3 linked regions of the Homo sapiens genome follow. The protein of the gene in region 1 interacts with the protein of each later gene in a pairwise test. Each region holds a gene or a part of one and is shown on either strand. Other genes may lie near its edges. The genes, in order: PARP11, GTPBP3 and RNF11.

Region 1 (3,753 bases):
TTGAGACGTCTCACTGTGTTGCCCAGGCTGGTGTGCAGTGGCATGATCTCGGCTCACTGCAGCCTCCGCCTCCCGGGTTCAAGCAATTCTCTGCCTCAGCCTCCCGAGTAGCTGGGATTACAGGCACCCGCCCCCACACCCGGCTAATTTTTTTGTATTTTTAGTAGAGACAGCGTTTCATCATGTTGACAAGGCTGGTCTTGAACTCCTGACCTCCTGATCCACCCGCCTCCACCTCCCAAAGTGCTGGGATTACAGGCGTGAGCCACCTTGCCTGGCCAGAACTTTTTTACTTTAAGGATCAAACAGATGTTAAGTGAGAAAGTCATAGGTAGCTGGCAATAGTTTCAAGAACAACTTTTAGCTGAGTGATCTTTCTCTCGATGTCTTTGTCAGAAAACAATTTCTTTAATGGACATTGCCTTCTGTCATTTTCTGATTGATTTGGCTCTTCCACAGATTAGCCAGATAATCTGGAAATCAGCCCCACTTTGGATTTCATCTGTGTTATATGGGCATGTTTTGGGGTATCCCATGAAAAACCTGATGAACTGAGCTCCTCAAGTTTCAGGCTGTTAGTTTCAGCTATTTATTGCTTAGAGGCAAACAAGACCTGGATGGGAGGCTTTCTTAATAAAAGTACATTTTGTTTGCTACACAGCTTGGTCCTTTAGCTGTTCTTTCTCAATTCCTGTGAGTAGTGTCTTTATGACAGTGTTAGTAGTGTATTGTGGCTGGGTAGGGTGGTGAAACGTTAGGAAATCCCCTTGGATGAACCAAGGCCCAGAAACAGTGAAGGGGATTTGTCCAGTAAGGGATTGATGGAACCAAATATGCAATAATTATTATCCCACCAAAGTTGTTTTTCTTGCTTTTTTTTTTAATTATCAAGAGTTAAAAACCATTAGATCCTTGCTCGTGACAAGCCATTTTTTTTTTAATGCCATTAGGCAAATAAGCAGGATTTAAGAGGCCCTGACATTTGTCCCTCTGTTGCAGTCTAGGCAGAAGGTATCTGGTAGGCATTTTTAGTCATGTGTACAAGTATTTTTGAGGAAGAACTGAAACCGAATGATATGCACAGACACCAGACCTCATGTAGAGGATGAACTGTATCAAAGCATTTGATAGGTAATTCAGCAAGCCACATGTTTCTGAAAGAATATTTTTTAGTAGACTACACTTTTTGGAAACTTGCTCTCAGAAAAAAGAGTTTATTAAAAATATCATTATTAAGGAATGGGAGTTACATATACTAATAACTGGAGTTCCCCAACCCTCTGTGTAATGATCCTGTTTCAGAGGCATGGATATTAGCATTTCACATGTACTCTTTGCAGTTATCAGCTCCAACCATTCTGCCACTAGCCAACTCAGGTTTTCTCTATAAAAATGGTGAAAAGTAAACTAAAAAATGAGATGGTCCAAGAAGATGGCATCACAGGTCTTGCTCCACATGCTGAGATGATCTTGCTTTTTCCCTGAACAGTGGTAAATCCAGTATGTGTAGAGTCTAGGAGAACACAGAAAGGACAGAACACACTTTATACTAGCCTTAGCCTGGGTGGGTAAACATAATCATTTTGAAATGGAATGATGTCAATTAGATGAGATAAACTGGCTAGAATCTTACATTAAGAATCACTACTTAACTTTGAGGAATGAAGAAATGGACCTGGTAAATATTGGTATGACTGAGGCATGGATGAAAGCAGAAAATGATACCTTTAAGTACTTAGTCTCTTATCACTAGAATCTTTTTATGTAAGTTTGTACTGGGTCTAGCCAGGTTTTCTATTTTTTAGGTTTAGTTATATAATTAAAGAGAAATCAGGAAATGTAGAAATTTTTGAAATTCTGTGAGTTGTACAAGTTTTATAATCATTTCCAAAATTTTTGGAGAGATGAAAGTACATTTTTCTTCTTAATAAACCAACCACATTTAATACTGTAATTTCTCTCTTTCTAGTACTCTTAGCTTTCCTAAGTTTAGAACTCTCCTAGTTTAGTGTCTGTTTAACCTAAGTGTGATACAGAAGGGGAATAGACCGTGCATACTGAGCAGTGGATGAAATGAGCATCTTTATGTGTGAGCTTACGTCAAGCAATGAAGCTGTGCTTCCTTGAATAACACCTCCACAACGTGGTACATAGCTAGCTGCATGGTAAAGTACCCATAATACACTATGCTTGCCAGCTACTCCCGAAGCTCCATGATTCCTGATCATCGCGTAGCGTGGCTATTAATCTTCATGACACTTTATAGTACAGTGTACTTTTATGACTTATCTAATATCTTGTCTTTGTATACAGAAATGAAGCAAATGAATCTCACCACTGGAAAGCAGCGCTTAATAAAAAGAGCCCCCTTTTCTATCAGTGCTTTCAGGTATGGTAAAGAGAATAGGGGTGGAAAGAGTGGGTTTTTTTTTTCTTACTATTGGACAGAAAAACAAATAGACTGGAAATATTTTGGTAGGTCATTTAATAATATTGATCTTTTAAATATCAAATCTTGGGCCAGGCGCAGTGGCTCACACCTGTAATCCCAGCACTTTGGGAGGCCGAGGCGGCCTGATCACGAGTCAGGAGATCGAGACCATCTTGGCTAACACACGGTGAATCCCCGTCTCTACTAAAAATACAAAAAAAATTAGCTGGATGTGGTGGCAGGTGCCTGTGGTCCCAGCTACTCGGGAGGCTGAGTCAGGAGAATGGTGTGAACCCGTGAGGCGGAGCTTGAAGTGAGCCGAGATGGCACCACTGCGCCACTCCAACCTGGGCGACAGAGTGAGACTCCATCTCAAAAAAATAAACTAATTAATTAAAAAAATATCAAATCTCTCATTTGTTGACAAAATAGCAACATTATTATTTACTCTAAGTGCTTCCTTTCATGTTATCCTTTTCCTTCTTGTATATTTACATTTTTTAATTCTTTAGAACAGTTTGCAGTTACAAAATGCCTTATGGTCTCTGCTCTAAACTCATAAAATAACTCACTGAGGTAAGTTTAAATTGTTAACTTGGACGTACTCTCTCAGAGCCATACAATTACTGGGGCCGTAAGAATTAGGTAGTTGTTCACTTTGTTTCCACCTACATTGATCTCCATTGGTCAACTCCTAGAAGTAATTTCAAATTTGTAGAGACTAAGGGAGCCATAGGGAAGATGGTAGAACAGTGGACAACAGTATTGCTTTCTGTTCCCTGGAACTTGGTTACAAATTTTCTTTTTTGCTTGCTCTGGCCATAAGAAGTCTGAAAAAGGAGGTATAAATGTCAGAAGACAATACATATTTATTATTCATGTGAATGAATGGACTTGAAGGAAAAAATCTTAAAGCATGTCTCCTATTTTCTAAAATGACTCTTCAAGCAAGTATTGAAATTCTTTTTTGTTCAAATAATTTAAAATGAAACTGGAAAAAAAAAAAGGTAGCATGTTAATTGCAGGGAATGCCTATTTGCTCCTTCCAAGGAGATTTTTGAAAGGATTAAAGAAAGAAATATTTTAAGTTTCTGTCAGTTTGTTTCTCAAGACTTTTGGTTTTATTTTAGCATTTATTTTGGTTTTATTTTAGCATCACGATATAAAAGTTATTCCAAGTACTTATAAAATGAATGCTCTAGTACTTCTGTGGAATATAGAGAATAGTATTTCCTTACTAGCTACGTCATATCCACATTCTTTAGTACAAATAATATAATAAAAGAATTACTTATCTTCAGAAAGTATTTAATCTGGGAGAA
Region 2 (2,832 bases), on another chromosome or scaffold:
ACCCATCTCTACTAAAAATACAAAAGTTAGCCAGGTGTGGTAGGGTACACCTATGATCCCAGCTGCTCGGGAGGCTGAGGCACGAGAATGGCTTGAGCTCAGGAGGCAGAGGCTGCAGTGAGCTGAGATCACACCACTGCACTTCAGTCTGGGCAACAGAGCAAGACTCTGTCACACACACACACACACACACACACACACACACACACACACACACACTTTGGGAGGCCACAGGTGGGCAGATCACAAGGTCAGGAGATCAAGACCAGCCTGGCTAACACAGTGAAACCCCATCAAAAAAAAAAAAAAAAAAAAAGAAGACTAAAGACTAAAAAAGGAATGAGGCCAGGCACCGTGGCTCACACCTGTAATCCCAGCACTTTGGGAGGCCAAGACAGCAGGATGGCTTGAGTCCAAGAGCTCAAGACCAGCCTGGGCAACATAGTGAGACCCCCCATCTCCATAATTCTGTTTTTTTTTTAAAAAGAAATGACAATTTGTAGAGCAATGAACACAATACCATTTATATATGATACACAAGACAAACATATTTGAAAGGTACATCCACAAGTATGCAAACATTCAAAGTTCTGGAAAGACACACATTAAGCCATGACAACCACAGAAGGGCTAAGGAAAATTTCCATGTTGAAACACTTCTGGGGCCAGGTGTGATAGCTCACGCCTGTGATCCCAGCACTTTGGGAGGCCAAGGTAGGCAGATTACCTGAGGTCAAGGAGTTCAAGACCAGCCTGGTCAACATGGTGAAACCTTGTCTCTACTAAAAATACAAAAATTAGCCTGGCGTGGTGGTGTGCGCCTGTAGTCCCAGCTACTCAAGAGGCTGAGGCAGGAGAATCACTTGAACCCGGGAGGTGGAGGTTGCAGTAAGCCGAGGTCGCACCACTGAACTCCAGCCTGGGTGACAGAGCGAGACTCTGTCTCAAAAAAAGAAAAAAATTAGCCGGGCATGCTGGCACATGCCTGTAATCCCAGCTACTCAGGAGGCTGAGGCAGGAGAAGCGCTTGAGCCCCGGAGATGGAGGTTGCAGTGAGCCAAGGTCGCACCACTGCACTCCAGCCTGGGCAATAGACAGAGGAGGGAAGGGTAGGGGAAGGGGAAGGGGAAGGGGAAGGGGAAAGGGAAAGGGAAAAGGAAAGGGAAGGGAAGGGAAGGGAAGAAAATAAACACTTCTAGATCACCTGAGTTTTTTTTACATTCCTTTGGTATTTGCAAAATAAATAAAAAACTACGAAACAAATATACTGAGATCCTCCTATCTCCATCCCAACCCGGATGCCCCAGCATCAAGGGTCGAACGGGACCTCCATTCAGCCCCATTCCAGGGCCTGAATCTCCAGGGAGTCCCTGCAGGGATCTCACTACCTCTCAGCTGTGTTGCTTCACTATTTGAGAATCAAGTTCTTTCCCAGGCGAATGAGAATCCCAATTGGCCTAAACTGTTTCCAGATCCCCCGAGGCTCCTGGGTCTCCACGCAGCTTGGGTGCGACTTCCCTGGATCCCGTCACTTGCCCACACAGAAGTCCTGGAAGATGATGTCCAGGATCTCCTCGGTACCCCCTCCACCTGTGAGCCGGGTCAGGTGACCCCGGGCCACCCGCAGCGCCTCTGCCGCCAGGGCCAGGTCTTTTGACTGCTTGTAGTGGCCGAGGGCATCCAGGCAACCCTGGAGGTGGTGCTGGTGCCTTGCTCGGGTCAGCAGCGGGGGATCTGTGGACGGGTCCCCACACCTGGAAGAGACAAGAGACATGGTCTCTCCCGACCTTTTACAACCATCCCTTGAAGGGGAAATGGTTGTACCCATTTTGTAGGTTCAGAAATTGAAGTTGAGGGACCCACACTTAAACTGTGGGTCAGGGGAGGCTGGGAGTGGGAGGGGGCTCACACTGCAGCTAGCTCCTTCCTCAGCGCCTCCAGGAGGCCGTCCAGCCCCTCTCCCGTCAGACAGGACAGCAGCAGGTGCGGGGGCAGGTCAGGACCGGGACCTGGGCCCTCCGGGGACAGCAGGTCCGACTTGTTCAGCACCAGGAGGAGGCGCTGGCTGCTGTCACTGGGGCTCTGGGCTCCCACAGAGGCTACGACGGTGGCCAGGAAGTTGCAACTGGAGGGAGAGGCCAGGTCAGAAGCATCCAGCATGGCCAGAATGAGGTCAGCCTGCTCTAGCCTGCGGGAGCAAGGTCAACTGAGCGGGGATCCCAGGTTGAGCAATTGAAGGCACTGGGTGGAGGGACAGTTAGAGGGGCCAGGCAGAGCACTGGGGGAGCTGCGAAGCGTGAGGTCGGGAGGGAGGAGTAGAGTACCAGGGGACCGGCAGAATGTTGGGGGCCCAAGCCGAGCACAGGGGGTGGGGCAGAGCAAGAGGGGCGGGGCACAGTGCAGGGGGAAGGGCAGAGCAAGAGGAGCGGTCACGGTGCGGGAGCGGGGCAGAGCAGGAGGGGCTGGGCACAGTGCAGTGAGTAGGGCAGGGCAGGAGGGGCGGGGCACAGCACAGGAGGGCGGGGCAGAGCAAGAGGGGCAGAGCACTGTGCAGGGGGAAGAGCAGAGCAAGAGGGACAGGGCACAGCACAGGGGCTGGGACAGAGCAAAAGGGGCCGGGTACAGCACTGGAGTGGGGCGACCATGAGTGGCGGGGCAGAGCAAGAAGGACCAGACACACCACAGGGTAAGGGGTAGAGAGCACCAGGGGTGGGGCAGAATGTAGGGGGTGGACAGAGCACAGGGGATGGGATAGACCGCAAGGGGCAGAGCGGAGTGCCAGGGCGGGACAGAGCACGAGAGGGCGGGGCAGAACGTGAGGGCTGGGCGGAG
Region 3 (3,753 bases), on another chromosome or scaffold:
AACAGCTACATATTATAGCAGATACCTGAAGGAGAATGGGATTATTTTAGGTAGAAAAGCATCAGTTAGATCAACTTTGTTTTCTTGCACTATTTAGTGTAATCCTGGACTAAGACAATTTTCATTTTAGTAACTGTAAAACAGAAACACTAACTTCGGGCAACTTTGTTTCCTTGTGCTATTTAGAGTAATCCTAGAGTAAGATAATTTTCATTTTAATAACTGTAAAAACAGAAACACTAACTTCAGCCTACTTACTGGGTTGCTGTAAGTTAAAGCTCTCTTCATTAACACTAACTTTCTCTTATTTTACTTTATTTTACTTTTTGAGACAGAGTTTCAAGTGATTCTCCCACCTCAGCCTCCCAAGTGGTTGGGATTACAGGCGCGTGCCACCATGCCTGGCTAATTTTCGTATTTTCAGTAGAGATGAGGTTTCACCATGTTGGCCAGGTTGGTCTCGAACTCCTGGCCTCAAGTGATCCCCCGACCTCAGCCTCCCAAAGTGCTGGGATTACAGGCATAAGCCACTGTGCTCGGCCTGTGAAAATTCTTAATTACTACATAACATTCTCTTGCTAGTAGCCAGTAATAGAGCTATGAAAAAAAATTAAACATTCTCTTGCATTAAGCGAAGTGTTTCAATATATTAAATGTCTGACTTTCTAAAGTGCAGGAGAAAAGGCAAATTTTTCAAAAGCAATCTGAAAATAAAACTTTGAAATGTACAAATTAATTAAAACTTACTCCCGGATCTTTTTTTCTGATCCATCTCTTCCAGGGTCATAAACTCCTTTAGGCAGATGTTGTATAAGACCTATTCTTTGAGCTATCCTAATTTGTTCCTCTTCAGTCAGCTGAGTTGCTAGCCGAGTCTGGCTAGGTGTTGGGTGGTAGACTGGAACTGGAACTTGTTCCTAAAATATTAAAATATAGAGGAAAAAGATTATTTTTTAAAAACCTTTCGAGGGCTTATTTTTTGGTCAGAGATAGAAGGGAAAGGGAGCCCTGGGAGGGGTAGGAAGCTGGGCTAGTGTTTGGCTGTATGACTGTGTTTCACCCTGCCTTAACTTCAGCTACTAGAATAAAACATACACACACCAAAACATTCTCATTCTGCCTAAAGGATATAAACACAGACTTCACTGAACTGGCATGGAATGTTAAATGAACTATTTCCACATGATAAGAGACCAGCCTGGACAACATAGCAAGACCTCATCTCTAAAAATAATTTTTAAAACTTTTTAAATGGACTGGACTATGGCAAAAATAAATCTAAAAGTTATCTAAGACTAACTTTCCCATTTCATAGGACCAAGCTTGCCTACAGTCACTAATTGACAATACTGAAATTAGAATTCTGCTGCTCCTAATCCAACTGATTTTTTACACAACAAAACAATTCAAAGGAATCGTGTGTATAACCCCCACCTTTTTTTGAGATAGGGTCTCCCTCTGTTGCCCAGGCTTAAGTGCAGTGGCACAAACACAACTTACTGTAAACTCAACCCCCTGGGCTCAAGCAATCCTCCAACCTCAGCCTCCTGAGTAGTGGGGCCACAGGGTTGAGCCATGGTGCCTGGCCTATAATAATATTTAAAACTGAGCAACTCTGATGGAATGAAGCTGGGATGGAGTGTGGCCTAGAAGGGATGAGGCTCCCCATCCCCAAGCCCTCACCTTGGTTACCTTTGCAGAATCCTCAGAATCAACAGAGCAGTCTGAAAAACACTACTATCTCAGAAGATGAGATTTTCAGTCTGAAGAATTAAATTATAAGATTTCAGTCTCAGCTCGGCTACTTACTGTGATTGCTTGGACCAAGTCTCTTAATGTCTTTGAATAAAGCAGATAACAGTACCCACTTTAAAGAGTTGATATAATCATGAGATAACTAAGAGCTTTGTAAATGCCAATATTTGTAAATTATTCTAACATCTCCCCAACGTCATGATTCTCCCCATCATGATTCTCTGCTTTGCAGACTTTAAGCTAAGTGCTACTGTCCTTGGCTTTGGTCCTGGCTTTCTGGCTTCTCTTTGAATACTACAAACTCTTGGACTCTGTTGTGATCTCTGCCAGCTCTGAGTTCTTCAACCCTTGAATTACCATTTCCAGTCTAAATTACCTTCCTGAATCTTAGCCTCAGTCCTAGTTGACCAGTTTTGATGAGCTGTCATCCACACGCAAACTGGGAACAAATTGGTTTAAGACTAAGATAATATAAAGGGTCTCTTAAATCCTTGAACCTAACAAACAAAAATAACTAAATTGTTTTAGAGAAAATAAACTCCAACTATGGGTTTTTCAGAGGCTAGATTTCTTCAGTCTTGTGGTTCACATACGTGTAGAGAACACAGAAAGCAGAACAGAAAAGGAAAGTTCTACTTTACGGGGAAACATTAATAAACATTAAAGAAGAAAATAAAAACTATATTTTAATTCACGTTATGAGTGTATTTTCTCCTTTGGTATTTTTTTGTTAAAACAAAGGAACCCTCTCTATATCTTTTAGATATTTAAAATGATTGAACAATCTAATTTCAGTTTACATGGTTCAGAAAACCATAGAGGAAAGGAAATGACTAAGACCTCCTGATATTTTAAAGATGAATGTGGCCTCACCCTTCTTACCACACATGCCTAATTTTAAATTTTAATTCCCATGATACTTGTTTTAAAATGGCTTGATATCTGAGTTATCAATTGTTTCATAACTAGACAGCCACTGATTTTCTAGGCAGCAAAATGGAATCCTGATTCAATTGTTGGCTAACAGACACTGAGTGAGTAGAAGATTAGACAGGGGTATAAAAACAACAATTTTAAAAGATGTGATGGCTGGGCATGGTAGCTCATGCGTGTAATCCCAGAACTTTGAAAGGCCGAGGCAGGCGTATCACCTGAGGTCAGGAGTTCGAGACCAGCCTGGCCAACATGGTAAAACACCATCTCTACTAAAAATACTAAAATTAGCTGGGCGTGGTGGTGCACGCCTGTAATCCCAGCTACTCAGTAAGCTGAGGCAAGAGAACTGCTTTAACCCGGGAGGCAGAGGTTGCAGTGAGCCAAGATCTTGCCACTGTACTCTAGCCTGGGCAACAGAGAGAGACTCCATCTTAACAACAAAAAAAGATATGGATTTGGGGGTGGTTCCCACCATTCCCTATCTGCGAACACTATATGGTTTATGTTCAACACCTGCTTCCCCTCTGAGAATCAGGAATTTTGTCATATGCTAGGCAGTGGGTGCCTAATCAGTACCTGGGGCACTGAGTCTCCAAATGAGCTTCTCTGGCAGAAAACCTTTCATATATGTTGAAGGAATTAAGCATGTCCTGTGTGACTCCACTAGGAGATAACTCTTGGAAGCTTGTGCTTAGTTCCCTTTAGACCAAAGCACCTTTCCCCTTAGCTGATTTTGCTTTGATTCTTTGCTGTAACAAATCATAGATGTGAGTAAGATTATATACTAAGTCCTAAGAGCCCTCCTATTGAATCACCAAACCTGGGGACTGTTTTGAGGACCTCCAACGCCAGTGCTAGGTTGTGCTCCCACTTTATATTTGCAAAGCTACTGTGTTTCGTCCCCAGCTGAAAACAAATGAAAAATAAATAAATATTTTGATTAGCCTATTTCAGGGCCTAAATATGGACCTAATGACAAAAGGTATACAAACACATCTCACTGCAACCTCCAACTTCTAGGCTCAAGTAATCCTCCCACTGCAGCCTCCCCAGTAGCTGGGA

What was found.
Region 2: the proteins of PARP11 (region 1) and GTPBP3 interact in binary tests that used the Homo sapiens proteins (3 or more experiments, as listed by UniProt).
Region 3: the proteins of PARP11 (region 1) and RNF11 interact in binary tests that used the Homo sapiens proteins (3 or more experiments, as listed by UniProt).

The regions. Positions count from the first base shown.
Region 1 is NC_000012.12:3,824,794-3,828,546, reverse strand, and holds part of PARP11 (protein mono-ADP-ribosyltransferase PARP11), read left to right. Parts: intron 1-2,313; coding exon 2,314-2,389; intron 2,390-3,753. UniProt on the Homo sapiens protein: Mono-ADP-ribosyltransferase that mediates mono-ADP-ribosylation of target proteins. Plays a role in nuclear envelope stability and nuclear remodeling during spermiogenesis. Inhibits the type I interferon activated signaling pathway.
Region 2 is NC_000019.10:17,340,400-17,343,231, reverse strand, and holds the end of GTPBP3 (5-taurinomethyluridine-[tRNA] synthase subunit GTPB3, mitochondrial), read right to left. Parts: intron 2,189-2,832; coding exon 1,910-2,188; intron 1,755-1,909; coding exon 1,529-1,754; 3' UTR 501-1,528; downstream 1-500. UniProt on the Homo sapiens protein: GTPase component of the GTPBP3-MTO1 complex that catalyzes the 5-taurinomethyluridine (taum(5)U) modification at the 34th wobble position (U34) of mitochondrial tRNAs (mt-tRNAs), which plays a role in mt-tRNA decoding and mitochondrial translation.
Region 3 is NC_000001.11:51,267,120-51,270,872, reverse strand, and holds part of RNF11 (RING finger protein 11), read right to left. Parts: intron 918-3,753; coding exon 748-917; intron 1-747. UniProt on the Homo sapiens protein: Essential component of a ubiquitin-editing protein complex, comprising also TNFAIP3, ITCH and TAX1BP1, that ensures the transient nature of inflammatory signaling pathways. Promotes the association of TNFAIP3 to RIPK1 after TNF stimulation.